Linked DNA regions of Homo sapiens. The protein of the gene in region 3 interacts with the protein of the main gene of each other region in a pairwise test. Each region holds a gene or a part of one and is shown on either strand. Other genes may lie near its edges. The genes, in order: SLC33A2, SIGLEC5, SLC7A8 and SLC25A46.

What was found.
Region 1: the proteins of SLC7A8 (region 3) and SLC33A2 interact in binary tests that used the Homo sapiens proteins (3 or more experiments, as listed by UniProt).
Region 2: the proteins of SLC7A8 (region 3) and SIGLEC5 interact in binary tests that used the Homo sapiens proteins (3 or more experiments, as listed by UniProt).
Region 4: the proteins of SLC7A8 (region 3) and SLC25A46 interact in binary tests that used the Homo sapiens proteins (3 or more experiments, as listed by UniProt).

Annotation. Positions count from the first base shown.
Region 1 is NC_000008.11:144,501,272-144,511,713, forward strand, and holds SLC33A2 (major facilitator superfamily domain-containing protein 3), read left to right. Parts: upstream 1-7,798; 5' UTR 7,799-8,062; coding exon 8,063-8,744; intron 8,745-9,088; coding exon 9,089-9,236; intron 9,237-9,326; coding exon 9,327-9,451; intron 9,452-9,522; coding exon 9,523-9,632; coding exon of another isoform or gene 9,633-9,719; coding exon 9,720-9,893; 3' UTR 9,894-9,942; downstream 9,943-10,442. Other genes in the region: PPP1R16A (protein phosphatase 1 regulatory subunit 16A), read left to right, coding at 1-23, 249-632; GPT (alanine aminotransferase 1), read left to right, coding at 3,034-3,195, 3,333-3,422, 3,500-3,608, 3,727-3,860, 3,975-4,218, 4,577-4,656, 4,724-4,860, 4,961-5,135 and 3 more; RECQL4 (ATP-dependent DNA helicase Q4), read right to left, coding at 10,160-10,284, 10,410-10,442.
Region 2 is NC_000019.10:51,609,225-51,615,071, forward strand, and holds the end of SIGLEC5 (sialic acid-binding Ig-like lectin 5 isoform 1 precursor), read right to left. Parts: intron 4,826-5,847; exon of another isoform or gene 4,605-4,825; intron 3,770-4,604; exon of another isoform or gene 3,722-3,769; intron 3,199-3,721; coding exon 3,007-3,198; 3' UTR 1,736-3,006; downstream 1-1,735. UniProt on the Homo sapiens protein: Putative adhesion molecule that mediates sialic-acid dependent binding to cells. Binds equally to alpha-2,3-linked and alpha-2,6-linked sialic acid. The sialic acid recognition site may be masked by cis interactions with sialic acids on the same cell surface.
Region 3 is NC_000014.9:23,123,231-23,133,001, reverse strand, and holds the end of SLC7A8 (large neutral amino acids transporter small subunit 2), read left to right. Parts: intron 1-1,444; coding exon 1,445-1,541; intron 1,542-3,202; coding exon 3,203-3,352; intron 3,353-4,637; exon of another isoform or gene 4,638-4,805; coding exon 4,806-4,983; intron 4,984-5,658; coding exon 5,659-5,825; 3' UTR 5,826-7,707; downstream 7,708-9,771. UniProt on the Homo sapiens protein: Associates with SLC3A2 to form a functional heterodimeric complex that translocates small and large neutral amino acids with broad specificity and a stoichiometry of 1:1.
Region 4 is NC_000005.10:110,762,356-110,767,911, forward strand, and holds the end of SLC25A46 (mitochondrial outer membrane protein SLC25A46), read left to right. Parts: 3' UTR 1-2,802; downstream 2,803-5,556. UniProt on the Homo sapiens protein: Transmembrane protein of the mitochondrial outer membrane that controls mitochondrial organization.

The DNA.
Region 1 (10,442 bases), on a different chromosome or scaffold from region 3:
AGCTCAGGCCGCCGCCCCCGGAGGTGAGCGCCCCGTCCCTGCTCCGCCCAGCGCAGGGGTGGGCCTGGCTCTGCCCTGGTTCTCTCTCCGCTTGGACCCCCTCCTGCCTGTGTCAGGAATGGTGCCCTGCAGGGGCCAGCTTTTGCCCCATCTCTCCTGTCTGTCCCTTCATGACCATACAGCCTGAACCCAAGGCCAGGGAGGGGGGAGGAGCCTCCTGATGGCTCTGGGACCTTCACTGCCCGCAGGAGGACAACCCCGAAGTGGTCAGGCCGCACAATGGCCGAGTAGGGGGCTCCCCAGTGCGGCATCTATACTCCAAGCGACTAGACCGGAGTGTCTCCTACCAGCTGAGCCCCCTGGACAGCACCACCCCCCACACCCTGGTCCACGACAAGGCCCACCACACCCTGGCTGACCTGAAGCGCCAGCGAGCTGCTGCCAAGCTGCAGCGACCCCCACCTGAGGGGCCCGAGAGCCCTGAGACAGCTGAGCCTGGCCTGCCTGGTGACACGGTGACCCCCCAGCCTGACTGTGGCTTCAGGGCAGGCGGGGACCCACCCCTGCTCAAGCTCACAGCCCCGGCGGTGGAGGCTCCCGTGGAGAGGAGGCCGTGCTGCCTGCTCATGTGAGGCTGTTGCTCAGCATGCAGGGGCCCTGTCGCGGGCACAGCCCAAGGCTGCCTCCCCACGGTGCGTGCCCTGGTGCTGCGGGTGCAGCACGGAAACCCCGGCTTCTACTGTACAGGACACTGGCCCCTCTCAGGTCAGAAGACATGCCTGGAGGGATGTCTGGCTGCAAAGACTATTTTTATCCTGCAACTCTTGATAAAGGGCTGTTTTGCCATGGAGCCTCGTTGTGTGTTGTGTGTCTCAGCTGGGTCGCTGTCCCACAGTGGGGAGTGGGTTGTGCTGTTTGGCTGGGGTGCCACCCGTGCCTGTGAGCATGAAAGCCTGTAGGTGCGCGCTGGGGCATGTGGCAGCCCTGGCTGTGTGGGAGTGAGGCTCACAGCCACTGGGCTGGAAGCCTGGGCCTCACCCACTCCCTCCCATGCTCAGCCTCCTGGAGCCTCCTCCGTAACCCTTTGCTCTCCTGAGAGGAGCCAGGTGCTTTGAAGGAGCCTCCATGGGGGCCAGGGCCTAGGGTGTCTGTGCTGAGGGGCGGAAGGTGGGGGTCCCAGGGACCATGGCTTGGAAAGGGAGGTGGTGTTTTCCACAAGACTCTTGTGTCAGAGCCAGAGGGGCAAAACAAGCACAAGGCTGTGTCAGAAGCTCCCTGGGGGGGTTGTGGGTCCCCAGTTCCTGGCACGCAGCCTTAATCCTGGGGCCTGGCTGCCAGCTTCCGCCTGGGCTGGCATAGGGGACACGCAGTTGGCCACTCTGGCTCTGAGCTGGCTTGGCACAATGTGTCAGGGTGAGGGGGCCCCTTAGGGGCCTCAAGCAGGAGGGCTGAGGGCACCGCTGGTTCGTCTGTTCATGGTGGGCGGCTTTGTGTGGCCACCAGTGCTGGGTGGTGTGGGTTTGGGCTGTTCTCCCTCCTGGCTCAGCACGGGCCCGTCAGCCCAGTGTCCTTTGGGCCTGCCCTTCCCCTAGCATCCCTGGTTGGAAGGGTGTCCTCACAGGGCTGTGGGCGGGCCAGGGCTGGCTGCTGGTTAAATTTAGTGTGGGGGGTGGGGCAGCTGCCCAAGGTCCACCTGCCACCAGGGCTGCCACTTGGACTCCCTTGCCAGGGGGCGGGCAGGGGCTGGCTCTGCCTGGGGCCAGGCCCATGTTAACCTGTGCCCCGGCCTGGGGGCCAGAGGGGCAGGCCTGCGCACGGGGAGGCTGTTGTGGCAGCGGAACAGAGACGTGCACGGTGAGAGGCCTGGGGGCCGGCTGTCCAGGGCTCCCGATGGCTTTTCTCCCAGCCAGCAGGATCAGAGGAGCCAAGGTCCGACTTGGGCCTGGCTGGTTGCCCACAGCCCTGCTCAGAGGGCCGGCTCCCTGACCCCCATGGTTCAGGTTTCGGTGCCCGACGCTGGGGTGGGCCAGCGTGGAGCCTGGCCTTTCAGCTCAGCAGGCCTGTGGAGGTGGGGCTCTGACGGCCTATCCCAGCTCGTTTCCTACTCTCTCCTCCAATCGGGAACAAGAGGGCTGGAGAGCTCAGGTCACCCCTAGCCTCGGGTGTGTCCCAAGGGCAACCCCCAGCTGGTGCCTGGTGAAAGGGCATGACAGCAGCCACGGTGTGAGCTGTCCCAGGGCTCAGGGCTGGACTGCCTGGCTCCAGCCCCCTCCCCCAGCCCCTCGCAGTGCTCATCAGGGACCAAGGTCCAGCTACAGAGCTCTTGCAGCCTCTGGGCCATAGCTGCCAGCTCTGGAGGGTCCAGATGGAACCCAGAGCCTGAACACCCCTCCCCTCCCCCCAGCACCCCCTGGATTCCTGAGGCCTGGCTCAGTTAATAGGAGACAGGTCCGCTGGCCCAAGCAAAGATGCGGGTGCCACGAGGGCCAGGCCTCGGCCAAGCCCTGCTGGGGTAAATCCCAGCAGCCCAGGCTCCAGTCTCGCCTCGGGGGTCCCTCCTTGCCAGCTCTGCCAGCCCCTCAGGGCTGCTGGGCACCCCTTCACCTCCTGAGCACCCCAGGTGCTCAGCCCTCTCCCCCTCCCCCCATGTCTAGTCCCTCAGAGCTGTCCGGACTGACGTCTGTACCTACCCCCCATGTGGGTCTCCTGCTCTCCCTTCGTGGGGACACTAGGCAGGCACTGGGCCTTGCCCCAAGCCCCGCCTGCCACCTCACCCACTGCCTCTGCCTCCCTGGGGCAGAGCTGTTCCCAGACGGGTGGGGCGGGGCCCAACTGTCCCCAGCTCCTTCAGCCCTTTCTGTCCCTCCCAGTGAGGCCAGCTGCGGTGAAGAGGGTGCTCTCTTGCCTGGAGTTCCCTCTGCTACGGCTGCCCCCTCCCAGCCCTGGCCCACTAAGCCAGACCCAGCTGTCGCCATTCCCACTTCTGGTCCTGCCACCTCCTGAGCTGCCTTCCCGCCTGGTCTGGGTAGAGTCATGGCCTCGAGCACAGGTGACCGGAGCCAGGCGGTGAGGCATGGACTGAGGGCGAAGGTGCTGACGCTGGACGGCATGAACCCGCGTGTGCGGAGAGTGGAGTACGCAGTGCGTGGCCCCATAGTGCAGCGAGCCTTGGAGCTGGAGCAGGAGCTGCGCCAGGTATGGCCCAGGGCCCCTCGCTGCCCTCCAGGTCACAATGGGGTGGCCGAGTTGGCCCCAGCCCCACTGGCACATGGGACAAGGGCTGAGGGGTTAGGTAGGGCACAGTCTCCCTGCCTGCTCCCCTCCCCTCCCAGGGTGTGAAGAAGCCTTTCACCGAGGTCATCCGTGCCAACATCGGGGACGCACAGGCTATGGGGCAGAGGCCCATCACCTTCCTGCGCCAGGTGAGGCTCCTGCACTGCCCGGAGCACCCCCCCACCCCCAGCCCATGTGCCCTGGCCTCAGCACTCCGTCTTCCCAGGTCTTGGCCCTCTGTGTTAACCCTGATCTTCTGAGCAGCCCCAACTTCCCTGACGATGCCAAGAAAAGGGCGGAGCGCATCTTGCAGGCGTGTGGGGGCCACAGTCTGGGTGAGAGCCAGGGCCAGGAGGAAGCAGAGGGCCGCCCTGCCACTGGAGGAGGGAAGTCCCTTGGGAGGGCTGAGGAGAACTTCACCTGTACTTCCCATCCTGTCCTGCCCGAGTCCAGGGGCCTACAGCGTCAGCTCCGGCATCCAGCTGATCCGGGAGGACGTGGCGCGGTACATTGAGAGGCGTGACGGAGGCATCCCTGCGGACCCCAACAACGTCTTCCTGTCCACAGGGGCCAGCGATGCCATCGTGGTAGGCTGGGCATGGGCACCAAGACATTCCTGACACTGCAGAGGGGGCGCCCAGGGTGGGGGACAGGTGCGGCCCCAGGCCTCGCCAACCCTGCCTTCCCCTTCCTTTCCGCAGACGGTGCTGAAGCTGCTGGTGGCCGGCGAGGGCCACACACGCACGGGTGTGCTCATCCCCATCCCCCAGTACCCACTCTACTCGGCCACGCTGGCAGAGCTGGGCGCAGTGCAGGTGGATTACTACCTGGACGAGGAGCGTGCCTGGGCGCTGGACGTGGCCGAGCTTCACCGTGCACTGGGCCAGGCGCGTGACCACTGCCGCCCTCGTGCGCTCTGTGTCATCAACCCTGGCAACCCCACCGGTGCGTTCCCCGCCGCCCCGCCCCACTCCCCCCGCGCCCACGTTGCGTTCCCCGCCGCCCCGCCCCACTCCCCCCGCGCCCACGGTGCGTTCCCCGCCGCCCCGCCCCACTCCCCCCGCGCCCACGGTGCGTTCCCCGCCGCCCCGCCCCACTCCCCCCGCGCCCACGGTGCGTTCCCCGCCGCCCCGCCCCACTCCCTCCGCGCCCACGGTGCGTTCCCCGCCGCCCCGCCCCACTCCTCCCGCACCCACGTGCGCCCTGGCCCAGGCAGTGCCGGGTCCGCTGGACCCCGGCTGCCCAGCGGAGGGCAGTGCGCCCCCTTGGCTCACCCAGCACTGCTGCCTCCCCGGCACCCCAGGGCAGGTGCAGACCCGCGAGTGCATCGAGGCCGTGATCCGCTTCGCCTTCGAAGAGCGGCTCTTTCTGCTGGCGGACGAGGTGCGCGGCGCGGGGGAGCGGGAAGCCGGGCAACAGTCCGCCCCCGTGACGCCTTGCGCCCTTCCAGGTGTACCAGGACAACGTGTACGCCGCGGGTTCGCAGTTCCACTCATTCAAGAAGGTGCTCATGGAGATGGGGCCGCCCTACGCCGGGCAGCAGGAGCTTGCCTCCTTCCACTCCACCTCCAAGGGCTACATGGGCGAGTGCGTGCGTACGAGGCGGGTGGGGGCTCGCGGGCCATGGCCAGGCCCTCCTCGCCCGATGGGCCACCCCCTCCTCCGCACCTGACCTGGCCGTGCGCAGGTGCGGGTTCCGCGGCGGCTATGTGGAGGTGGTGAACATGGACGCTGCAGTGCAGCAGCAGATGCTGAAGCTGATGAGTGTGCGGCTGTGCCCGCCGGTGCCAGGACAGGCCCTGCTGGACCTGGTGGTCAGCCCGCCCGCGCCCACCGACCCCTCCTTTGCGCAGTTCCAGGCTGTGAGTTGGGGGCAGGAGGGGGTCCAGGTGACCTAATCAGGGGTGGGGGATGCCGAGTGCCGTGCCCTGATGGGCCCTCCCTCCGCGGCCACAGGAGAAGCAGGCAGTGCTGGCAGAGCTGGCGGCCAAGGCCAAGCTCACCGAGCAGGTCTTCAATGAGGCTCCTGGCATCAGCTGCAACCCAGTGCAGGGCGCCATGTACTCCTTCCCGCGCGTGCAGCTGCCCCCGCGGGCGGTGGAGCGCGCTCAGGTCAGGCGGGGGCGGGGCCTGCGGGGTGGGCAGGGGGGGCCGGGCATCCCTCTCTGACGGCTCTCCGTCCACAGGAGCTGGGCCTGGCCCCCGATATGTTCTTCTGCCTGCGCCTCCTGGAGGAGACCGGCATCTGCGTGGTGCCAGGGAGCGGCTTTGGGCAGCGGGAAGGCACCTACCACTTCCGGTGAGGCCTGGCCCTCACTCCCTGTCCCGCCACCCTGGCCCTTCACTCACTGTCAACTCCTTTCAGGATGACCATTCTGCCCCCCTTGGAGAAACTGCGGCTGCTGCTGGAGAAGCTGAGCAGGTTCCATGCCAAGTTCACCCTCGAGTACTCCTGAGCACCCCAGCTGGGGCCAGGCTGGGTCGCCCTGGACTGTGTGCTCAGGAGCCCTGGGAGGCTCTGGAGCCCACTGTACTTGCTCTTGATGCCTGGCGGGGTGGGGTGGGGGGGGTGCTGGGCCCCTGCCTCTCTGCAGGTCCCTAATAAAGCTGTGTGGCAGTCTGACTCCAGGGAGGAAGCGTTGGCAGCTGCGTGGCCCGCTCCCACCTGCCTACCCTTCTTGCAGGCCTGAGTCCCTTCAGAGAAGGGACCTTCCACGGCCACCACCCACCTCTTCCTCCTGAAGACCCCGTGCCCACCATAGGCTGGGTCTTCCCTCTGGCCTCTGGTTGTGGGGCAGAGCCCGTCAGATCACACAGAAATGGGTTGAGAGGGTCCAGAGTGTGAGGAAAGCGCAGGCCCCACACCCCTTTGTGGAAGCCCCCAAGAATCTAGGGAGCCAGGGGCCCAGGTGGCCACCCGAAGAAACACAGCCTTTCCTGAGGAAGGCACAGTGAACTGCCTCCTTCCTGGCTCCCTTTCCTGTGAGGTCCATGTCTTCCCTGGGGCAGGGGGAAATACTAAACCAGCATGGTGCTGGCTGGTCAGGGTGACTGACAGCTCAGGAAGGAAGTCTTGGTTCTCTTACCCAAGGAAGCAGGGGTGGGGCCACTGTCTGGGGGGCCAGAGACCACCTTTGGTGTCATTGTGTGGTGCAGTCCTTCGGCTGGGTGGAGTGGGAGGCAGAGGGAGAGGATAAGGGAGCGTCCCAGGGGAGGGCTGGGGCTGGAGGAGGCAGGGGCTGGGCTGAGCGGGAGTGGGCAGCGCTGTGTCCTGGCCTGGGGAGCATGGCTGAGCACCTACTACATGCAGACACTGCTGGGGGGTCACTCAATCTGCACAGATGCTCTTCTGAAGTAGGCATGATAGTCCCCATTTGATAGACGTGGAAACCTGCAACCCAAAAACCTGCTGAGCTGACAAGAAACCCCCTCAGAGGCCTCGGCAGCCAGAAAAATGCGTTGGGTCCAGTGCCCTCAAGTCCGCCAAGGACAGGGCTGGCTTTAGAGACTCACAAACTTGGGAGATAGGACTGGCCAAGGGCACCTGGTTTTTTTCGCTCTGGAGATGGTTCTTAACCACAGGCCACACACACTTCACAGCCTCATCTGGCCCTCGGGAGCCCCAGAGGGCACAGCTCTGGGCAGGAGACACAGCAGGTGGGCCCCTCCCTTGGCAGGGCGGGCTCGAATCAGGCAGGGTGCTCCTAGCCTTGTCACCGGACACCGAAGGGCGTCACGGGCAGTGGCTGGCGGTGTCCTTCTGAGCTAAGCTGGGTCCTGACCTTTCACACTTCCCTCCTAACTTCCATGGCTCTGTCACCGCCTTACGGAGGAGCTGAAGCCACAGACACAGCAAGGTTGGGGTCCGCACCGGAAGTATCCAGTGGTAGACGGCGGAACCCTTAAGAAACGGACGCCTTCATGCGGGCGGCTGGAGAAGCGGGGGCTGGGCACTGCAGCAACCACGCTTCGGCTGACACCAGGAAGGAAGCACGCCTGGAGCGGATCCGAAACTACTGAGAGGGGCCAGGGCTGGCCGTGGGCGCAGGCCGATCCTTACATTCGAGGCCGGCCCAGCTCTGTAGCTTCCCCCTCTGGGCCTCTCACCCGCGCAGGACCTCGGTGGGAGCGCGCACGTGGCGGGGCGGGGGGCCGCGGGCCCGAGCCCGGACTGGCCACCGGGGGCGCCCGCGAGCTGACGCTCTGGCCCGTTGCGGTCTCTGTGGCCCGCGCGACCTTCCGGCCCTGGAGCCGGTGGCCGCGGGGCTCCAGCGACGCCGTGTGGTCCGTGCTCCGCTCTGTGGCTCCAGGGGGCCGAGAAACTGCTGAGAGTCCGGCCCGGCCGGCAGTGCTGGGCGCGGGCCGAGGGCCCCGGGAGGCAGCGGCCCCGCCCTCTTTACCTGCGGCCTCGCAGAGCATGCTGGGAGCCGCGGGAGGCAGTGGCCCCGCTCCCCTCACCTGCGGTATCGCAGAGCATGGTGGGAGCCCCGGGAGGCAGTGGCCCCGCCCCCTTCCCTGCGGCCGCGCAGAGCATGCCGGGAGCCGCCGGCCGCCGGTGTCCGGACCGCTCGCCCCCGTTTGGACCCGACTTCGGTTCTTCTGGGGTGTTGATGCTCCTAAAGCCCGAGAGCACGTGTCCAGACCCTAGCCTGTACGACGCTGACTCTGCCCGGTCCCAGAACCAAAGCCATGCCGGGGTGTGGCCTCTGACCCCACGCGGAGGGGACCTCGCCTTGCGGGACCCCACCTGGAACCCGACCTCCCAGCCTCGCAGCCGGCCTGAGCCGCCATGCGCGGGAAGTTGCTGCCGCTGGCCGGCCTCTACCTGGTGCAGGGCCTGCCCTACGGGCTCCAGTCCGGCCTCCTGCCAGTGCTGCTGCGTGCCGGCGGCCTCTCGCTGACGCGCGTGGGGCTGGCCAAGGTTCTGTACGCTCCGTGGCTGCTCAAGCTGGCTTGGGCCCCGCTGGTGGACGCGCAGGGCTCGGCGAGGGCCTGGGTGACGCGCAGCACGGCGGGCCTGGGCCTGGTGTGTGGGCTGCTTGCCGGGCTGCCCCCTCCTGGAGCTGGCCAGGCCGGGCTGCCCGCCGCTGTGGCGGGGTTGCTGCTGTTGTTGAACCTGGGTGCCGCCATGCAGGATGTGGCCCTGGACGCGCTGGCTGTGCAGCTGCTGGAGCCGGCCGAACTGGGGCCGGGCAATACCGTGCAGGTGGTCGCGTACAAGCTGGGGGCCGCGCTAGCTGGGGGCGCGCTGCTGGCGCTGCTGCCCACCTTCTCGTGGCCGCAACTCTTTCTGCTCCTGGCTGCCACCTACTGGCTGGCCGCGGCCCTGGCCTGGGCTGCACCAGCCCTGCGGCGGCTCCCACAGCAGCCCCCTTCCGAGCAGCGTCCCCACACCGCGCACCTTCTGCGGGACGTGCTAGCCGTGCCGGGGACCGTGTGGACGGCAGGCTTTGTGCTCACCTACAAGCTGGGTGAGTGAGGCCTCGAGCCAGGCAACAGCAGTTGGGGCTTCCGGGACAGCTCCAGGTGTGTCCCCAGGGGCTTGCAACCCATTACAGGGCCACGCTCTTTCTGGGGTATGACCTGCAAGACTTGGCCCTGACATCCGGGGCTCTGCAGCTGGGCCTTGTGTCTTGTCCGCCCCCAGCTCTAGCCCCATCCCTGAGCGCTCTCTCGGGCTGCCCCACTTCTCCCCCAGTATCTGCAGCTCTGGAACACTGAGGAGAGCAGGGCAGGACTGAGGGCCCAGGTGGGGAGAAGGGAGGTGGGGGCAGATATGGAACCTCCCGTGCTCATGCCCCCCCCACCACCCAAGGTGAGCAGGGTGCCAGCAGCCTGTTTCCTCTTCTCCTGCTGGACCACGGCGTTTCTGCTCCCGAGTTGGGACTGTGGAATGGTGTGGGTGCTGTGGTCTGCTCCATCGCTGGCTCCTCCCTGGGTGGGACCTTGCTGGCCAAGCACTGGTGAGCCCTCCCCAGTGTACCCTGCCCACCCACTTGTACCTGAGCTGCCCCCAATCCACTATACTGACCCATTTCCCACCCCCATCCCAGGAAACTGCTGCCTCTGTTGAGGTCGGTGCTGCGCTTCCGCCTCGGGGGCCTAGCCTGTCAGACTGCCTTGGTCTTCCACCTGGACACCCTGGGGGCCAGCATGGACGCTGGCACAATCTTGAGAGGTGAGGGGCTGGCCTTGAGGAGGAAGAGAGGGGCCAGGAGCCTGGGGCACTGCTGACTTCTGCCCTCCCAGGGTCAGCCTTGCTGAGCCTATGTCTGCAGCACTTCTTGGGAGGCCTGGTCACCACAGTCACCTTCACTGGGATGATGCGCTGCAGCCAGCTGGCCCCCAGGGCCCTGCAGGTGAGTAGATGTAGCAGGGACACAAGAGAGACCACGGGGCTGGGGCTGTGTGGGCCTGACCTTGACCGTGACCCCCACCCCCCTCAGGCCACACACTACAGCCTTCTGGCCACGCTGGAGCTGCTGGGGAAGCTGCTGCTGGGCACTCTGGCCGGAGGCCTGGCTGATGGGTTGGGGCCACATCCCTGCTTCTTGCTCCTGCTCATCCTCTCTGCCTTTCCCGTTCTGTACCTGGACCTAGCACCCAGCACCTTTCTCTGAGCTGAGTGGCTGGAGTGGTCAATAAAGCCACATGTGCCTGTGGCCCAGATGTCTCTGTGCCTGGAATATGTGATGTGCTTGTCCCCAGCTTGTGGGGGTTGCCTCATTGGCCAAGAGGGCCCATAAAAACAAAGTGAGCATTTTTTATTCTGCATTTTGGAGCCTCCTCGTTCCCACACCCTGTGGCAGGTTTTGCCCAGGTCCTCAGTCACTGCCCTAGCCTCTGACAACCCCAGCTCTACCCGACATCCCCCAATGCAGTGCAGTCAGCGGGCCACCTGCAGGAGCTCTTCCGTGGCCAGGCCCACCAGGGCATGGAAGCTCAGGTGCAGGTATTTTCTCCAGAAGCGTCGGTCCTGCCCGTACACCTGGGCCGGGTAGCAGGGGCTTCCTACGGTGGAGCCAAGACACAGCCGTGAGCCCCAGCCCCAGCCTGCAGCGGGTGGAGCCTCCCAGGCCTCACCTGCCCCAGCCCCCAGCCCCAGCCTGCAGCGGGTGGGGCCTCCCAGGCCTCACCGATGCCGTGGAAGATGCGGGCCACAGCCCTGC
Region 2 (5,847 bases), on a different chromosome or scaffold from region 3:
TCTATCAAGATTTTTGGTAAGAAGGATGAGTTTTTATTAACTTTTTGTCATAATCTCCTTAAAGAAAATTATTTTTTCTTCAAAAAATTTAAGAAAAGATGACTATCAGAAGATCAGACATTTCCTAGCTTGCAATATTTTTCCATGTTTGTGTTATCAGAAATATACTTACCATTCACATTGTGTGATCATCTGTTATGCTGAGAAATAGAACATGCGGGCACCCCAGGAATCTTAGAACCCCTCTTTGTTTCCCACCCTCCCTGACCTTCTTATGAGTACCACCTTGCTGATATTTGGGATTATCCTTTTCCCTGCCTTTGCCCATAAGCATAATACCTGTGTATATATTTTTAAGCAAGAATAATTGCTTTAAACATTCACACAAATGGAACAATGTGGTAATGTGTATTTTGTATGGCCAAATAGGACTGCACTAGCTTTCCTTTTATTAATGTCGGCATAATATACTTTCACTTTTGGCCTTCTCTATCCTTGTACTTTACGTGTATATGTTGTAAAGATCATATACTTGGAATCCATCCAAGTGGACTCTGTTTTAAACTGAAGCATTTATCCAATTATATTTAACATAAATATCCCATGTTATATTTTGTTTTCTGTATGTGTCACCAATTCTACATTACTTTATTTCTCCGTTTTGTTTGTTTGTTTTGTTTACTAAGTAATTTTGTTGTTGTTTGGCTTTTTGTTTGTTTTTTGAGACAAGGTCTCACTCTATCACTCGGCTTACTGCAGTCTCCACCTTCCGGGCTCAGGTGATCCTCCTGTCTCGGCCTCCCAAGTAGCTGGGACTACAGGCATATGCTACCATGCCTGGCTAAATTTTTTGTACTTTTTTGTAGAGGTGTGTTTTGCCATGTTGCCTAGGCTATTCTTGAACTCCTGGGCTCAAGTGATTCTCCACCCCTCGGCCTCTCGAAGTGCTAGGATTACAGGTGTGAGCCACTGCGCCTGGCTGGTTTACTAAGTTTTTAATAGTATACCTTTAGTGATCACTAGGTTGAAAGTTATATATTATGATTCTGTTCTTTTAGCCGTCATGAGAAAAATTTACAGCATGCCTTATTAACCTATCAAAGTCTTTAGTAAATGAAAACCTCTCTCTCCTCCTGGATAATATATGGATATTGGGACATGTAAAATACACTTACCTTGGTACTTAACTATTGTGATTGTCAGGAATTCTAAACTATCTTTTGTTTTTATTAAAGCTCCCCCATTTACTTGCTCTGAAAGATCATTATTGCTTTCTCATTTTTGAGTTGACTTTACTGAGTATAGATTGCAAATTGATGTTAGAAATAGTATTTGCCTTCTTCTACTCTCCAGGTTGCTACTGATAATTCAGTTGTCAATTAAATGACTTTTCTTTTGAAGGTGATCCTTTTTCTCTGGTAGCTGTTCAGATTTTTTTCCTTGTCTTCAGTTTTGATTCAGCCTTACCTTGACACAAACCCAATGTAGGGATGGTCTCTTTTGACATTTGCAACCTTTCGCTGGGCCACAGACTTAACCTTCATTTCCAGAGCCACATGCAAGACCAAAGAACCAAAGCTTCCTTTTTCAATATGAGCAAATGCCCCTGGGAATTTTGGCTTAGTGATTCTGCTTACTTCTCTGGGTTCAGCCTTTCCCCAGAATTTTGGCCTAAGTTTCCATTTTCTTTTCAGGCATTCTATACTATTTAAGGGAAGGATTCTTTTTCTACTCATTTTTTCCCCAAAAGATTTTATTATTTTCAACACAAGGCTTGATCAAAATTATCTAACCTGTCATAACCAAAACAGTAGTCACAATTCACCTTCTTTACAGTGATGAAAATGAAGTTTGGGTGGTAGATATTGAGAATCAATGTCCTCCCAGTACTCCACTGGAATTATCCACTCATTTCCTCATGACCACTTGCTGAAGTTTCTAACATTGTCATTTATCTGGGTTTGGAGATACCCTAGATAAGTAACTGGAGAATTTTTAGCTGCTTTTGGTTTAGCATTTTAAAAAATAAATTAGTTCAATTTTAGAGGAGGGAGAGTATAAGTTCTTTCTTCAGTCCACTCTTCCAACTCAAGACCACCCATTAACTCATGTTTGGAGGAAAAGATAGTGTAAGCCAGATGAAAGCAAGGAGGCATGGCTTCCAGGAGGAGGAATCTCAAATTGCAAAGACAGTGTGGTATGAACCAGCATGAAAGGCTTAAGGAAGGGTTAGGCAAGAGGAAAGTATAAATGAATAGATAGCAGGGAGATCATGAAGGACTTTATGTGTCAGGGGAGATGCTTGTGATATATTGTCTAAGGCCAGGGGGCCGTGAATGGGTTTGGGCAGGAAAGAGTTAGACTCAACTCTTTGGCTGTTGGAAGGATTCCTATGGGTCTCATAAATGAAGGACTGGAGCCAAAGGAATATGATGCAAGGATTGCAGGTAAAAGTGGGCAAAGATATGACTCTGGCAAGGATATAAGATCCCACATCATGAACCAAGTGCCAGGCTGAGGGGCTGGTCTTTCCTAGGGAGTCTTCGAAGAGTTTTGGGAAGGGGAGTGACACCAACATATTGCTGCCCTGTTTTTTGTGCCTGGTCATCCCCAGCCTTGAGAGAACTTGCCAGCAGGACCTTTCTATTCAAGGAAGAGAGACCAGAAAGCACTGAGCACAACGCCCTGTTCCAGGACCCATGTTGGTTGATTTCCATGTGTTGATTTCTTTAATGTTCACAACAACCTTTGAGGTAGCATGCATGATCTCTGATTTACAGAATGGGAAACTGAGGCACAGAGGGATGCAGTGAATTGCTTGATGACAGTGCCAGGGCCTAGATTTGAGCCCACCTCTCTAATTCCATCTGCTTGGAGCACTTAAACATCAGTTAATGTTAACATTGCCACAAGGGCTCTTCGTGCTTCAGCAAGTGGTCCCTGACTTGTCCTTTCCCCCAGACAGGCTGTGGCTCCTCCAGCCAGGACTGAACTCTGGGCAAATCCTCACTTGCTTGTCTTGATCTCCGAGTACTCCGTGGTGCTTGGGGCCTCCTGGTCCTTAGGCTCCCTCGACTTCATCTCAGAAAAACTAAGGGAGGCATAATGGAGCTCCTTTTGTTCTTCCAAGGGAGGGGCATCCCCAGGAGGAGATGCTTGATCTCCGGGGCTGTCTGGCCAGGGCTTCTTCCTGGAACCCTGAGTAAAGGGGAAGGAAAGGTGTCACAGTAGGAATAAAGAGGCAGGTGTAGAATAATGAGTTCTTATATTTATATGTTGCCTTGGGATTTATTTTGAATGTAAGTTGGACTTTCTCATGCCAGAAGCAGGGCTTAGTCACCTGGACACAATTTCCAATTCTCTACCTCCTCCCAGTTCCCCAAGGTGGTTAATCCAAATGTCTGCCTTATACAACCATCTCCTTGTGACCAGCTCCCTATGGGACATACAGCTACAACCTACTTGACTTACGTATTGACTCCTGTGTCCCTCATAGGCTGCGCAGATATACTGCAGCAACCACCTCTCAGTCACAGTGTGGCTCCACAGAACTCCTGCCTGCTAGCTCTAAACCCCCAGTTAGAACTCCCTGTGGGAAGCCTGCTTAGATTATGCCCTGGACTCTAATTAAGGCTTTGGCTCATGGGTTCTTCTCTCTCTCTCTCTCTCTCTTGCCCCCTACCCACTGGATGAGCACTTGCGTCCTGGTCAGTTCCCTCCTTTCCATTCGCCCTTCCAGGCTTGCTGTGCTATCTTCTCTCTGGGACCTGTGAGTAATAAACTGCTTCTGTTATTTCATGTGTTTTGTTGTGCTGTCTCCTCTGTGTCCCACCCGCCCAACAGACCTGAACCTCACTTCTTTTCTGGTCAAGGCTCTCCTAGAGAATAGCTGTCTTGGTGGGAATAAACCGGACACAGGTCATAGGAAAGCTGCAAGGGAATCTGCCAGGATAAACAAGTTTGCTGTGAGAGGGGGTCACAGGCTGGGCACTCAGGCAGCAGGTGGTGTGCCAGGATAAAGGAGTATTCTGTGAAAGTCACACTGTGAACATGATGGCCAGATCTCTGGGGTTCCCATTCAAGGCCGGGCTAGATTTTATGACCACTCCCCAAAGAGAGACCTCAACACCAAATAAGAGAAAAATACAACAAATGGTTCCCACAGGGAAGTTGGGCTGATGTGACATTTATCAATTCATCCTTTTATAATCCACTCCTCCTAAGGACAGGCCATAGGCTGCCTAGGTCAGGGTCTATGTCTGATTTCTCACACTGTACGTGCCCAGGAACCGGCACAGGGCAGACAGGGCTGGGTTCAAATCCCGGCCCCACCTGTCCATATACATTTCCTGTGAACTCAACTATTCGCTCATTCTTTCAAAATTTTGTAATACTATGATTGATCAGACCATATTGAGGACTTACTAATCACATTGAATCATCACCAAAAAAAAACCCACAACAGTATAAAAGATATTCTAATTATCCCCACCTTACACACAGGGAAACTGAGGTGGAGAGAGGTTAAGTAGCTTGCCCAGGGTTATTCATCTAATACATGGCGAGGCCAGGATTCGAACTCAGCCCTGTCTCCCCTGTTTCAGGTTCTGGGCACGTACAGTGTGAGAAATCAGACATAGACCCTGACCTAGGCAGGAGGAGCGGATTATTGATGAAGCAAATGTATACCTTCGGCATAGGTTACAAGGTGTCTTATGTGCAAACCAGAAAAGAGATGGCAATTCTGATCCTGGACCCAGTTTCCATGAAAGAGAAACAAAATGGAGCAGATCCTGTCCCCAGCAAAGATGGTAACCAGATACAAGTAAGCAATTTCTTTCCTCTCCCACCTTCACCCATATCCCTACCCATCACGCTATGGAAAATATGTTGAAAGCAACGTGAGTCTTCAAACAGTAGCTCAGAAGTTTTCTTTTTGAGACAGAGTTTCACTCTGTCATCCAGGCTGGAGGGCAGTGGTGTGATTTCGTCTCACTGCAACCTCCCGTCCCTGGCTCAAGCAATCCTCCCACCTCAGCTTCCTGAGTAGCTGAGACCACAGGCACAAGCCACCATGCCCAGCTAATTTTTGTAAAGACAGGGTTTCGCCACGTTACCCAGGTTGGTCTCAAACTCCTGGGCTAAGCGACTGGCCCAGCTTAGCCTTCCAGAGTGGTGGGATTACAGGTGTGAGCCACCACACCTGGCCATACAGTTTTTTTAAAAGGACTCCGCAGTTAGGGAAAAATGGCTTCATTGTGTCAGAAAAAAATAGACTTTCTGGAGAGAGCTGCTTATATTAGGCACAAGAAAGATGAAATAAAATGAAAAAGTGGCTATGCACACCAGCATTATGCAGGCAAAGGAAGAAATAAAGACATATGTCTATCAATAGGTGTGCGGTATATGAAATAAAAAGGGTGAAATTGACAACTGAAAGAAAAGGCACAGCTCAGATTAGTAAATAGGACAATGCAGTATGTTCACCCTTTCACTCAATAGCTCTTTGCTGAGTGCTTTCTTTGGGCTAGATGCCGTTCGTATAAATGAGGACATAAAGCAGACTGAAACCACCCAAATACCTCCCCGTCATGCAGTTCCTTGTTAGACAGAAGGAAAAGTAATACTGGGTAACAGTTATAAGTGAGCTCCCTGTGAGCTTGCCACTTTACTAAGCACTCCTTGTAACAATCCGAGACAGATACTAGCATATTAATAACCCAATTTCTATAGGAGAAAACAAAAAAACAGAGAGGTTCATTAGCTTATCCAAGGTCACACAGCTTGCAAGTGGGTGAATCTAGAACCTGAATGCAGGACGTCAAACTCCAGGGACCATGCTGTGCC
Region 3 (9,771 bases):
TTCGAGACCAGCCTGGGCAACATGGCAAGACCCTGCCTCAATTTTTTTTTTAAAAAGCAGATCATAGGCTGGGCATAGTGGCTCATGCCTGTAATCCCAGTACTTTGGGAGGCCGAGGCGGGCAGATCACCTGAGGTCGGGAGTTCGAGACCAGCCTGACCAACATGGAGAAACCCCGTCTCCACCAAAAATACAAAAATTAGCTGGGTGTGGTGGCGCATGCCTGTAATCCCAGCTACTCGGGAGGCTGAGGCAGAAGAATCGCTTGAACCTGGGAGGCGGAGGTTGCGGTGAACCAAGATCGTGCTATTGCACTCCAGCCTGGGCAACAAGAGTGAAACTCCGTCTCAAAAAAAAAAAAAAAGCAGATCATAAATGTTCATTTTGATGAGTTTTGTGGGGGTTTTTTTGTTTGTGTTTGTTCATTTTTGTTTTTTATTGTTGTTTTTTAGAGGCAGAGTCTCACTATGTTGCCTAGGCTGGCTTTGAACTTCTGGGCTCAAGCAATCTTCCTGCTTCAGCCTCCCAAGTAGCTAGAAATATAGGTGTGTGCCACTGTGCCTGGCTTCCATTTGATGAATTTTGACAGTTGTCAAAATTCAACCACTACCCAAAACAAGATAGAGAACATTTCCACCACCAATTCCCTACTCCCACAAAGACAACTAACTACTCTCTGACTAGGACAAGAGTGTTTTTAGGCCAGGCGCGGTGGCTCACGCCTGTAGTCCCAGCACTTTGGGAGGCCGAGGCAAGTGGATCACGAGGTCAGCAGTTCAAGACCAGCCTGGCCAAGATGGTGAAACCCCGTCTCTACTGAAAATACAAAAATTAGCTGGGCATGGTGGCACACACCTGTAATCCCACCTTCTCGGGAGGCTGAGGCAGAGAATTGCTTAAACCTGGGAGGCGGAGGTTGCAGTGAGCCGAGATTGCAGCACTGCACTCCAGCCTGGGCGACAGAGTCAGACTCCATCTCAAAAAAAAAAAAAAAAAAAAAAATAGAGTGTTTTTAAAGCTTTCCATATGCAGTTCAGTCCCAGTGTATTAGGGAATCTGCATCCTTTGAGGATGTGAGGAATGCTTTTAAAGAGATGAAGATTTTAGGCAACAGACAGAGGCTGCTCCTGCAGCCTTCCAGGCATTGGGAACACCCCACTGAGTGACAGTACAATTATCAGTAACCCTGAGCCACCCATACCACATTCAGGGTCTAACATACCCAGGGTTCATCCACTTTTCCACTGGCTGCCTCTGGTTTGCTTGCACCTGCATTTGTGAACACAGGTTCTGTGACTGGTGGGGTGGAAAGTATGCATGTGAAGGCGGGTGCCTGGTTGGAGTGGGGATGCCCCTGTGTGGGCAGAAGGTAGGCAAGGATGAAGGAGCTGGGGCTTGGTGGTCCCTGGGTTATCCCAGGCTGACCTGCTTTTCTCCCTGACAGGCTGTTCTTCGCTGGAGCCCGAGAGGGCCACCTTCCCAGTGTGTTGGCCATGATCCACGTGAAGCGCTGCACCCCAATCCCAGCCCTGCTCTTCACAGTAAGGGCCCTTCCTGCTGTAACTCTCCACACACCTCCCTCTCTTTGTGCCTAGTCTAAGCTGGGAGTTCATGCTTTTCACACACACCCCTGTTACCCTTGCAGTCTGCTGCTAGGTCTCACTGGATCTTAGAGGATCTGGCAAATGATACCCATCATCTTTGTTAATATCAAGAGATATAGCAAGGAAAGATCCTGAGTCTTGAAATACCTAAGGCTCTCAGGCTGACTTATTTCCGTTCTCCCATCCTTTTGGGTCAGACTGAACTGACTGTCTCAGGATTCTACAGCCTCAAAAAAAATATATCTCCCTTGGCTCTCCTCGCACCTGTTACCACAGGGTTGCAGCACTGGCCTCTGCTCCTGGCTGGTTGGTCCCTGCAAACACCCACTTCCCCCATCAAGCTTCAGGGCAGCCTGCCAGTCTCTTGGGAAACATCATTGAAATGAAGTTAGTGTTAACAGTACACCAAATACGAAAAATAATAGAGGAAGACTGATAAACTGGAAACTGTGCAAAGGAAACTTGGGACAGGAAAGAGATGGGAGTAAAATATCCCCAGAGTAGAATCATTTTGAGAGAGCTATAGGAAGGAACAAAGACTTGTCCCCATTGAGTCTTTTGAGTTATTTTTATTTTCCTTCTGGATCCTGAATAAAACACTAAAAATGACTTTGGTCCACTGGTGAAGCAGTTAGCAATCAGAATAACAGAGCTCTTGGGAGCCAAGAGCATTTTACAGCATTGCTGTACAATTTCAGAATGTTCAGATGCAGGATGAAGGTCACCTTGACTGGTTGGTTGTCGAAGGTGGCTGGAGAAGACAGTACTCCCAGTGGGCCACACACATTTTTTTGTTTTGTTTTGTTTTGTTTTTTCCAGTTAGAGCTATTGGTGCAGTAGTGTGACTAAAAGGCAGATGTAGCAAGAACCATTAAAATCTTCTCGATTATTTTAACCATCGGATCTCACAAGAGAACAGAACCTTTTGTTGACCTTCACAAGTTATCAGAGGGGAGGAGCATGGTTCCAAGAGAGCCACAGAGATGATTTTGAAGTTGGAAAGTAGACTCTGTCAAGAAAACCTCATAGGGATGTTATGAGGGTTAAGTGAGTTAATCTTTGTCAAATGCTAAACATAGAGACCTGGCACACAGTAAGTGCTATGTAACCAGTTTTGAAATTAATAAAGAAAAGGAAGGAAGAAAAATAGATGACTCAGCCAGGAGAAAAGGATGAGGGCAGGAATACAGCCTTAATCTGTTGTTAACAATCTTCCCTAAGGGATTTTAAAAAAATGAATTTAGCTTGAGCTATAACCAACAGAGGCATACAAATGAGACCGGGGCTGACACAGAGCCAGGTAATACCAGTGTGGCCAGTCTAGCTGCTTATGTCCAGTATCCATTCTAATTGGCTAGTGCCCGTGCCATACGAGTGGTTAAATATTTTGATCATCACCCCTGTAATAAGAAAGGATTTCCTAGCAATAAAGATGTTGTAACATATTGGGTTACTAGGGGAGGTTCTAAAGTCTCCATTTCGAGACATCCATTATACGATGGCATCATCTGCCTGGAGGCTGGGGGACAGCCCCTAATCTGTAATACCAGTCTCTGAATATCTTTCGGATCACTGATGAGCTCCTCCCACTTTCCCAGTGCATCTCCACCCTGCTGATGCTGGTCACCAGCGACATGTACACACTCATCAACTATGTGGGCTTCATCAACTACCTCTTCTATGGGGTCACGGTTGCTGGACAGATAGTCCTTCGCTGGAAGAAGCCTGATATCCCCCGCCCCATCAAGGTGAGAGAAACTCCCTTTGGGGTCCCCTCCCCTTCCTCTATGGTTCTAGCTGCAGTTCAGATTTTTAAATCACCTCTGTTCTTAGCTGCTGACCACACGTCATCATCTCTGATGGTAGCAGACCCTTTGGAAAGCAAGGGCCATTTGTGAATGGGACCACTATTTCCATTCTCCACTGGGGATGAGATCGGAGCAGACTGCAGCTGGGGAATAAGTCAGATCAAATGTGACTTTCATCATGACATTCCTTTGTTTCCTACCAGTCTAAGCCTTAAACTCCAGCTGACTTTTCAAGGTTCTCTTATCTCCCCAACACTTCCTCCTTGTCCCTCCAGATAGCTGGGTTCACTATGTGCTATGTCTCCATCCCAGAATGACTTCCTCCTCCCATCTGCCCATCTACATTTTAACCATTTTCCAAATGCGCCTCAAGTACCTCCTCTTTCTTGAAGTCTTCCAGTCTACTGCAACCTCCCATGATCCTCCCTTTATAAACTCCCACAGTCCTACACATATAGGGTGCTCAGTGAACCTAATATTGCTACAAGATATAACTCTGTGATAGGAATTAAAGGGATTGCTCAGAACAGGACATGCTAGAGCATTATGAGTTCTCCTACGAATTAGAAGAATAGAGTGTACTCCAGAGCTATTTGAACAATCCTATTCTAGAAACAGTGACTAGATGCTTCTAGAAGATCCTTCCAGCTGAAAAATCAAAGGCTCTCCAAATCTCTCAGTTCCTCACTGGCATTTCCACCGCCATTTTCTACTCTCACACTTAGAAAATCTGCTAGAGGGAAGAGGAGGTAGAATAACCCCATGTCCCCACCACACACATCCCTTCTGAGCGAGGAAGACAAGGAAGAGAAAGGCAGCCGAATCAGGACTGCCCCTGGAGCCCTGAAGAGGATACTCTCAGGAACTCCCCACATGTGGCCCATAAGGAGCTGACATTTGCCATATTGTGCCCACATAAGGGCCCTGCACAGAAGTGGGCAAGGACCAGGGAGCCTGAGTGACTCGAATCGTCTCCTGCCTGCACCTTGTGCATTGCCACACCTCCCCTCCACCCTAGGACCTCAGCAGACACACCCATGTGCCAGCAAGCTTCTCCATCCCTGTGGGCTTCTCTGGCTGCCACGGGCACATGGCATGCATGATGAGGCCTTGTCTAACCACACCCAAGAGCGAGGACATGGGCAAGGAGGATCGTTTCCTCCCTAACTCCTCCCCATCCTCTTCCTGTCTGACCGACCATGTTCATCAACATTTGTTTATATAGCCCCTGCCCTACCAGGGGTGAGTGTGGGACCACAGAGCCGAGGGAAGCCCAGCCTTTGCCCTTGAGGATGTGTCTCTGTGGGTGAAGAAGAGAGAGAATGCCCCAGTCCCTAGTCCTGGGGGCCACGTGGCCTACACAGTTCATACGCCTCATGCCTCTGCTCCACAGATCAACCTGCTGTTCCCCATCATCTACTTGCTGTTCTGGGCCTTCCTGCTGGTCTTCAGCCTGTGGTCAGAGCCGGTGGTGTGTGGCATTGGCCTGGCCATCATGCTGACAGGAGTGCCTGTCTATTTCCTGGGTGTTTACTGGCAACACAAGCCCAAGTGTTTCAGTGACTTCATTGGTGAGTTGTTGGAGGCTCTGGCTGGCTTCAGGGCCTCCTGGGCTGGAATGCAGTGGTCAGTGATGGGGTTGGGGAGCCACCAGGGCCAGGAGATCTAGGCTCACCTTCTCCTCAGTCCACAGAGCCCTGGAAGAGTCCAGAGCAGGGGAAGCAGATGCCTTTTCCCAGAGACCTCTGAGGGTAGAGAACAGCTGGCATTTCCACACAGACCTTAGACCCGCAAGAATAGGCAACCTGGGCTGGGCACAGTGGCTCACGCCTGTAATCCCAGCACTTTGGGAGGCTGAGACAGAGGATCACTTGAGCCCAGGAGGTTGAGACCAGCCTGGTCGACATAGCAAGACTCCATCTCTGTTATTAAAAATTTTAAAATAAAATAGGCAACCTGTCAGCCATTCTGTGAGAGCTGCCCGAGGCTGGGTGGAGACCAGAGGAGACCCTGGACTTAGGGGTCAGTGGGCACAGGGAAGGTGGGAAGGCTGGGGCCTTCATAAGCAAAGAGTAGCCGGCGGGAGATGCAGGAGGCAGACCAGGTGGCGAGGATTCTCTTCAACGCACTGACTGCTCTGAAGAGGCAGAACCTGGAGCAGGAGAGCCAGGAAGGGCCGGGGCCACTTGGCCAGGTTGGTGGGATACTCAGCATTGGCCTGGTTTCTGTGTGATCTCTTCCTACAGAGCTGCTAACCCTGGTGAGCCAGAAGATGTGTGTGGTCGTGTACCCCGAGGTGGAGCGGGGCTCAGGGACAGAGGAGGCTAATGAGGACATGGAGGAGCAGCAGCAGCCCATGTACCAACCCACTCCCACGAAGGACAAGGACGTGGCGGGGCAGCCCCAGCCCTGAGGACCACCATTCCCTGGCTACTCTCTCCTTCCTCCCCCTTTTATCCTACCTCCCTGCCTTGGTCCTGCCAACACATGCGAGTACACACACACCCCTCTCTCTGCTTTTGTCAGGCAGTGGTAGGACTTTGGTGTGGGTGGTGAGAAATTGTAAACAAAAACTGACATTCATACCCAAAGAACCAGCCTCTCACCCCAGGGTCCATGTCCCAGGCCCCACTCCAGTGCTGCCCACACTCCCAGCTGCTGGAGGAGAGGGGAGATGCCAAGGTGCCCTGCAGGACCTCCCTCCGGGCCACACCCTCAGCTGCCTCTTCAGGAACCGGAGCTCATTACTGCCTTCCCTCCCAGGGAGGCCCCTTCAGAGAGGAGAGGCCACAGGAGCTGCATTGTGGGGGGACAGGCTCAAGCAATTCTGTCCCCATCAAGGGGTCAGCTGGAGAGACCCAAGACCCTATCTGTTCACCAGGGACCCAAAATCCAAGGGGATGCTTCCCTCTGCCCTCTTTCCTGCCCCTCCCCATCATACCTGCACCCACCCCAGCCAGGGCTCCCTGTCCAGAATTCGGTTCTCCTCAGGACGCCAACTCCCAGAGCTAAGGACCAAGGAGAAGAACAGCCTCTCCACCCCCAAGCCAGGCGGTTGAGGAACATATTGAGAAAGGTTCAGATTGCAGAAACCCAGCCCTGCCCCTGCCTCCTGCATCCAGCCCCCAACATGGTGCCAAAGCTTCCAGAAGCCAAAAAGCTTCTGATTTTTAAGGTAGTGGGCATCTCTCTCCTAATGACGAAGCTGCTCAGCAACTCCACCTGCCCGCCGCAGGAAGGAGCAGTCCCCTGCTATCCCTGCAGCCACTCCCAGCACACCCGCACACAGCCAGCACCACCGCCCCCACCGTGCACTTCTCCTCTCTGGGCCTTGGCTTGGGACCAGGTACGAAGGATCCCCAAGCCCTTCAGGCCTGAGATCAGAGCCAGATCAGCCTTAAGTCACCTCCCATCCAAGAACTTGGCCTAAAAATACTCCCCTATTTCTAACCCTCAGGACGGATCTGATATTAAATGCCTTCCCTGGGAGGAAGGGTGCTTTCCCCCTCCCTAGAGGTGCCCATTCCATACCCTGGGAGACTGAGGAGAGCATTGGCTGAAGCCCAGTTCCTTTCCCATCCATCCCCAACTCCAATAATCCCCCACTCCTCGCAGGTCTCAGTGTCATGCTGTCTTGGGGCAGGGTGAAAGGGTAGTGGCAGCAGGGCGCCCACTCTGGAGATCCTCAAAAAAGGCCCTCCTCTGTGGCTGGCAGCCTCTGACCTTTCCCTGGGCTTCAAAGGAAGGCTATGGAGTTTGCTGTGGGCCCTGCAACCTTCCCAGCCACTCCTGCTGCACTAAGGACTTAGGATCCTTTTATCACAAATCGGGATTCTCTCCCCCACCCCGAATTCTGTCTGCTTAAACTGGAATACACAGGAGCCCTTCCTGGCCTGGATGGTGTCTCCCAGCTTCCCCGCCCAGCTTGCCCACCCCATAGTTGGTGAGATGCCAAGTTTGGTCTGAGTTGTGACCCCTTCAGAGTAGATGCCCGGCAGGCTGGGGTTGGCCCCTGGAGGGTCAGGGGACCATCTTCTTATTCCCTCTTTTCTCATTCCTCCAACTTCCTCCCCTCCTTCAATTATTTTTTTGTAAAGTTGATGCCTTACTTTTTGGATAAATATTTTTGAAGCTGGTATTTCTATTTCTTTTGGATTTTTTTTAATGTAAGGTTGTTTTGGGGGATGGAGTTAGAACCTTAATGATAATTTCTTTCGTTTGGTGTAGGTTTTAGAGATTTGTTTTGTGGAGAGGTTTTTTTCTTTTGATGTAATAAAATTTAAAATGGAAATGAAGTTGGTGGTGTTGGTAATTAAGTAACCTTTTGAGACAGAGTCACCAGGCATTTCCTCTTAGGAGATCTTGCCAGGTTCCTTCCAGAATGACATTCCTAAAAGCTCTCGCTCTCTGTAACTTCTAGCTATCCTAGGGACTCAATGCCAGTGCATTCAAACCACTGACTCTCATTCTGAACCAAAAACATCAAAAGACAAAAGTACAACGAATTTACAGATCTCAATTGTTTACTGTAATTCTGGAATCAGGCAACACTTCATTCCATAAAATAGAATACATATTCCAATGAGTTGAGCAGAAGAGGTTGGCTTTACAGACAGGGAGGGCTGAAGAAAGCTGGTTAGTCACTTTTCGAAGTTGCTTTTCTTGGCCGGGCACAGCGGCTCACTCCCGTAATCCCAGCACTTCGGGAGGCCGAGGAGGGAGGATCTCTTGAGCCCAGGAGTTTGAGACCAGCCTGGGCAACATAGCAAGACCTCGTCTCTACAAAAGATAAAATTAGCTGGGCATGGTGGTATGTGCCTGTGGTCCCAGCTCCTTGGGAGGCCGAGGCCGAAAGGAGGATGGGTTGAGCCTGGGAGGTCGAGGCTGCAGTGAGCTATGCTTGCGCTACTGCCCTCCAGCCTGGGCGGAAGAGCAAGCCCCTGTCTCAAAAACAAAAACAAATTTACTTTTCTTGTAAGGTGGGGACAGGGAGACGGAACAATAGAAAAATAACTGATTAGTTCATATCAGGATCCTTCAGGCTGCCTTGTTTTGTGTAAAGATTAAAGCAGAGGGAACTTCATTATCATGTCCATTGAATATTGAAACTGGCCTGTTTTAATTGGCTGTTATGTCTCTCTCCTGATTTCTAGGAAGGTCAGATAACAACTTAGTTTAGATTTGGTGATGTGGAACTTTAGCATGGGTGATTCTATTTTGATTTTTAGCCTGGTCTGTGGGGCCTAGGGCAGGAGCTTAGTCCAAAACCATGGCCTTCTGTAATTTTTTATTTAACAACACTGTCTCACTCCTTCTTGGAGTCATGAAGTGTTATTAAGTTCCTGCTCTGTGCACCGTACTGAAAGCCTGCAGACTAACTGGGAAGAAGTCAACATTGCCCAGGGTGGGACATGGGCAAGGGAGAGATGGCATCCAGCCAAGTTGAGGGAGGCAAAGGCAGATGTCCTCCCAAAGCCTGATCAGCAAAGGCTTCTCTCATCAGCACAGCCTGAGCCGAGTCTGTGGAGAGAGTCAGGGTCTGAGGAGCTTGATGGGAGGGCCTGGGAGGTAAGGCTAGGTTCACTCAGCTGGACAGAGCCATCTGAGAAGAAGAGTTAGCTCTAGGAGGAAGAGTAGGAGGACCACTGGACTAGGACAGGGGAAAAAGGAAAAAGTCGTTAAGGTATGTATAAGTACTTCCTGGCATTTTGGGCTAACTGCTAGAGGAAGTTGATGGGATTAGCCCCAGTCCTTGCTTTGTGTCCCTGTCTTTATGGGCCGCCCTCCTGGCTGCGTGTCCTGGGACAGTACCATTCCAGAGCCAGCACTGCTGGCAGATGTAGGGCAAGGGCGGGAGTAAGGGGGTGGTGGAGGGGCAGTGGTGTTAAGACATCACCCTTCACCATCTGGAACACTGTGAGGACACAGGCAGGCAAGATGCCGCCACTCCCAGTCCTGGCCTGACGCCAACACTCCTGCTTTGTGGCTGTCATTCTTCCAGACAGGCTGGAAGCTCGCCATTCAACAGGGACGCTGAGCTGGGAGGCGGGCCACTCAACAGCTGTGTGTCCTTGGGCAAGTCACCTCACCTGCTTAGCATTTTGAGAAAGAAAGAGAGCTGGACCTAATCTCAAACAGTTCCTCAATCTTCCAACTTTAGGTTGTCCCAAAAGGCAGAGGCTGCCAGTCTTGTCCAAGCCTCACATGTGCCCTTTGGGCCCCTCTTTCCCAGCACACACACCTTTCCTTTCCCTTCCCTGGACTGCCCCAGGCTCCTCCCTGTTGCCCCATTTGAGCATGTCCTGTCCCTCATCCCTTCTACTCCATGAAGGCACTTGTCCTTCAGGAGCACCTTCTCT
Region 4 (5,556 bases), on a different chromosome or scaffold from region 3:
ATGTATTTTATAAAGCCATTTATGTATACACATGTAACTTGGAATTTCCTTCATCCCTACACATTTTCTACACTTACATCACCTTATTGCATAAAACAAAGTCACGCGCTTTCTGCTTGAACATCAAAATATCAAAAACCAAGGTACCCAAAAGATACAAGTCAGAGACAACATCCTTGTCCATATCCAAACCCAGTGTTTCAGTGCTAGCAACTTAATTTCTCATACATTTATAGAGTTTGGTTTGCTTTGCTAGTTGTGTGAATCATTGGGCTGTTTTTAGAGCCACTGTTAAGAGAGAATATAAAATAATCATGACAATTACTACTGTTTCCACATTTACAAATTGTGTACTTAAATGAACCTCATTTCCCTTTTATTTCTGAATGGCTTGTCTGAGAGGAAACAAAATTAAAATTCATCTGGGAATTTGTGCCTCTTGTCTAGTATATAGTCACCACTAAATAATGGCTTCCGTTTTTATTTTCTTTCAGGTTTTGCTTTAAATTTTGTTTTCCAAAATAGATGTACGTGGAGGGAAAAGCAATTATTCTTATCACCTTTTATTTAAACTTCTTTAGATGAATACTGAAGAAAAATCCAAACCTTAAAGGAAATGTGCCCTTGTATTTTATGGGTGAGGGGAAAAAGTACATTTGTACATTTCAACATATAATAAGCAAAAAAATTACTAATCAGTTTAATAAAAACATTTTGTCTATTCCTAAATGTAATTTGGTGGGTTAAGCACTTTGTGTAGTAAAATGATATGTGTCTGCTCTATCATTAGACATTTTAAAGTTTCATGTCTTCACGTGAATAATCACAGTTGTATCATGAACCATTTAGCGCTCTGAAGCACAGTGACTTTGCACTGATATTGTCCAACCAAGAATGCATACGAATAGAAATTCATTTTACTTGCTAAATGTCACAGAAATGGTTACTTTTTGCAAATAGTAGTGTTGGAACAAAAAAGTGATATCCAAAAAGTGTAAAAACAGTAATAAGTAGCAAATCTCTCGTGTGTGTGTGTGTGTAGTTACTGAAACACCTACATTTTCCATTTTTAAATTCCACCAAAAGGGGGAAAATAAAATTAAACACCACTGATCACATTTTATATTTTATGGTGACTATTTTAGATTAAGGTTTACTTTGTCCAACCAATAGCATTTAAATTGTTTTCAATTAGGATAGTTTCAGATAAGAGTAAACCAGAAAATTTCAAGTTTGAAAAATTTCTAGAAAAGAATCTGAATAGAATCAAGTATTTACTAGTGAAAATCTGTAGGATCCTTTGTTTAGCTAAAAATTAAATATTTCAGGATATTTTTTGGAAGTTAGCATGAAAATAGTTAGTTACATAAATTCATTTTATTGTAGAATAATTATAAGACTGATAGGCTGAACCATACACAAATAAGGTTGATCTTGTTTTCCTTTTTGGAGAAAGAGAATACAAATTAACATTAAAATTGAAATGTAGAAAGTAAAATATGAATAATTTTTTACAACCACTCCAAATTAGTTGAAACAAAATCTTGAACGGTCACGCACTTAAATTTAAGCTAGCCAAATATGTTGCACTGAATTTTGAAAAGAATGAGTGAGATAACTGTAAGATACGCTCGTTCCCTTTTAAAAATTGTTATTTTTCTTTAACATGGGTGCCAAATCAAATATCCATGGGCTATACTTCTTAAGATAATAACAGCTCAAAATAATATTTTTTAATTCAGTAGAACTAATAGCATTATGGAAAAGATTCTATTAAATGTTCCACAGGCCCACTGGTCCTCTTATATAAGCCAAATTTTGGCCATGGAGCTTGTGATACACTTGCCTTACATTGTAGGGTTTCTTAATTTGAGTCAAGTACACTGAAAGCAATTAAAAACTGGTAAATATTAATTTACTATGTAAAGTGAACTTACGAATTAACTTACTAAATACATATATGTAGACCTTCCCGAAATGCCATTCTCAATTTTATTTTATGGGCTCCAAAAAAAATTATCTGGGTTAATAAGGTTATCTATTAAAGCCCCCAGAATCTCAGCACTAGATGTCATAAATATGAAATAGTAAAAACAAGGTCACTTGAAAATGGGTATTTAATACCTTAGCTGGTGTTTTCAGAAGCATACAGAACTGGAAAGGTAAGAACTTGCTTACTATTGCAGATATACCTGACCACTCACAACTGTCTTTTTAGCAGCAGCTTTGTTAAAACTGCACAAAGCATTCACTTTATTGATTGAGTACAAATGCTTTAGTGTTTCTACCTAAGTATTAGTACATCTGTTCAGGAAATGGAAAAAAAAAATGCTGCTTAAATTTGTTTTATCAGCTGAGGTTGTGGAGGATTTTTGTCCACTGATCTTTTGCAACAGAAAAGCATACTTTGTCAGCTTCTAATAAGATAGCCAGGTTTGAATTATTTGCAAAATTTATATAAGCAAATAAGATCTCTTGGTAACAATTGACATTGCACTAGAATTTGAATGATACTGTTGTTGGCATTTCTGTTTCTCTTTCAAGTAGTTGTAAATAATCTCTTTTTCTCATATAAACGGAATGCATAATGTCTTACTCTTGAGTCATTTAGTATCATTGATATGGTACCAAGTTGTATAGCAGAGTAACAAAATCATGATTTGACAATGAAATTTACATATTGCCTCACCTAGAGATGTTTTGTCTGTATGACTTTTTTTTTTTTAAGTTTGTCTTACTGTTACTTTAAATGTTTTGGGTAAATTGTGTAATATGAAAAGTTCAATAAAATGTCGAAATAAAGCCACTGTTTTTCTCCTACTGATGTGAGAGAACTATTCAGGCTGGTGGTTAAAGATGAAGTATATTTTTTTAGGTAGAAAGGAAGATCAACAAAATATGTGAAGTTAAACTTTTTTGCACACTATTTTTTAAAATCTCTATAGCCTCCTCACCACATCCCTATGACATTTTTGGAGTTGTGCTGTTTGATTAAGAATAAAATAGATACAGAGAGGAGGTGATTTGTCCTGCATTTCACAACTAGGAGAGTAACAACAGAAAAATGACAAATAGGCAGCTCCAGACTCCCATCCCTCCATGGAAAGAGAAGAAAACAACCAGAAACTGTCAGAACCAACTTTGTCAGACTCTGGAAAACAGTCAAAAGTTTACAGCAACTATGTGAATGTTAAATCAAGAAAAAGGCAACTTATTGTTAGGAAAGCTTTGTGGCTTTGACTTACCTTGGCTCCTGTCTTCTCTGTGGTTCAGTGGCATGGCAGTCTTAAAAATGGCAGCTTGGGTGCCCAGTGTGGGACCTGACCCTTGGTTCTAGAAGGAATAGAACAGACATAACTTGCTGGAAGGGAGTAAAACGATGTATTTATAATGCTGGAAATAAGTAATTTCTTTAAAAGGTTAAATAATGTTATATCTAGCAAAACTACCCTTCAAGAATGAAGGCGAAATTAAGACATTCCCGGATAAACAAAACCTAATGAAGTTTGTTATTAGTAGAACTTTCTTACGAGAAATAAAGGGAGTACATCAGGCTGCAAAGAAAAGACAATAGATAGTAACTTGAAGTCATATAAAGAAATAACACAGGTAAATGTAATTTTATAGGTAAGTATAAAAGCCAGTATTACTGTACTTTTAGTTTGTAACTCCACTCTTTCCTGTATAATTAAAAAGGCAAGTGCATAAAAGTGAATCTATTTTAATGGTCACACAATATATAAAAATATATCTATGACAAGAACAATATAAAGTGAGAGAGATGGAGATGTATAGGAGCAGAGTGTTTGTATACTACTGAAATTAAGTTGATATTCAACTTGTTGTTACATGTTTAAGATGTTGTAGCCCTTGAGATAAACACCAAGAAAATGACTTTAAAAACATACAGAAAAGGGAAGAAGGAAAACAAAATGGTATACTATTAGGAAGGCTGAGGCATGAGAATCACTTGAACCCAGGAGGCAGAGGTTGCAGTCAGCCAAGATTGCACTCCATTGCACTCCAGCCTGGACAACAAGAGCAAAACTATCTCAAAAAAACAAAACAAAACAAAACAAAAGCTCTACTACCAAACAAATCAGTTAATACCAAAAAAGACAGTGATATAGGAATTGAGAAGTAAAAAGCATAAAGATAGAAAACAAATAGCTAAATGGCAGAAGTCTATCATCTGCAGTTACTTTAAATGTAAATAAAAGGCGAGTGGCAAAATTGATTTTTTTAAATGACATATCTGTACTATGTCTACAAGAGACTTATTTTAGATATAAAGACACAGAGTTTGAAAGAAAAAGAAAAGCATTTTCCGTGTAAATTACGAAAAGAAGGGTGGCTGTATTATCAAAGACAATAGATTTTAAGTCAAAGTGGTTAACGAGACAAGGACATCCAACAGAAGGGCTAGGGGCACCATGTTCTCACTAACTGATGAATTGCTTCTTAGCTTAATTTCTACTGGAGCCAACAATGGAAGGCTTCTGAGAGCTTTTGGTAGGTCTTTCCACAGTCCTCTGCATTCCTTTCCCTTCTCCAAGTTGGTAACAACCTGTCTCAATTCTTTGTAATATAGGGACCTTGTAGTTTGTGAGCATCACTCAAGCTCTCTAAATTTTACACTAGAGATCATGTTTTCTCTCCCACTTCCACTATACAATACATAGACATAGAAAAATAAATTACATGGACATAATAAATGTGGAATACATGAATGAACCATAAAATTGTGCACTCATTCTTGTCTACGTATTTTCAAACTTGTTCCCTTTTAGCTAAGGATTTCAACACTTTCAAGTGTCAAGTGACCTTTAGAAGTCATCTCCCATTAAACCTCTCATTTCATAAATGTGTAAACTGAATCCTAAATATGTTTGGTGATTTTACTAAGGTCACAGAATAACAGAGCTGCTACTGCAACCCAGTTCTTCCCACTCCCAGACTAGTCTTTTTCCCCATTACATCACCCTGCCTTTTCTCTTTTATTTACCACTGAGTCTCTCCTTTCTATCTATACATATCTATACATAGAAACACCTGAAACTCTGAACTCTGTGATACTTAATAAACTCTATTTCAAAAAACAAACAAAAAACTATTTATACTTTCCTTATCTCACTTGTTTTCTGTTTTCATTCCATCTTTTGTCTTCCTCACTGGCTTCAGTTTTTAATTGTCCTTAGCATTTTCCAAACTCTGTTATAAGTCTTTATTATTTTGTATCTAGAACATGTCTTCCCACTATGTACTACTTCAATTGGCTCCCCAATATTTATCTTCAGTCTTGATCTCACCTCTAAGCTCCAGACCCATATCCCTATTTCATTTGCATTGGTACTGTGTTCCCCACTGCTGCCTCAAATTCAATGTATTAAAAGCTAAATTTATTATTTTTCTCATAAACTGGTTCTTCCTTTCCCACAGTGTTATAATTTTCCAGTCATATACAATCAAAATTTGAAATCATCTTCAGTTTCTCCCCAGATCTTTCATAGTCAATTATCTAAGTCCTATTATAAAAGAAGACCATGCCTTCGGAGC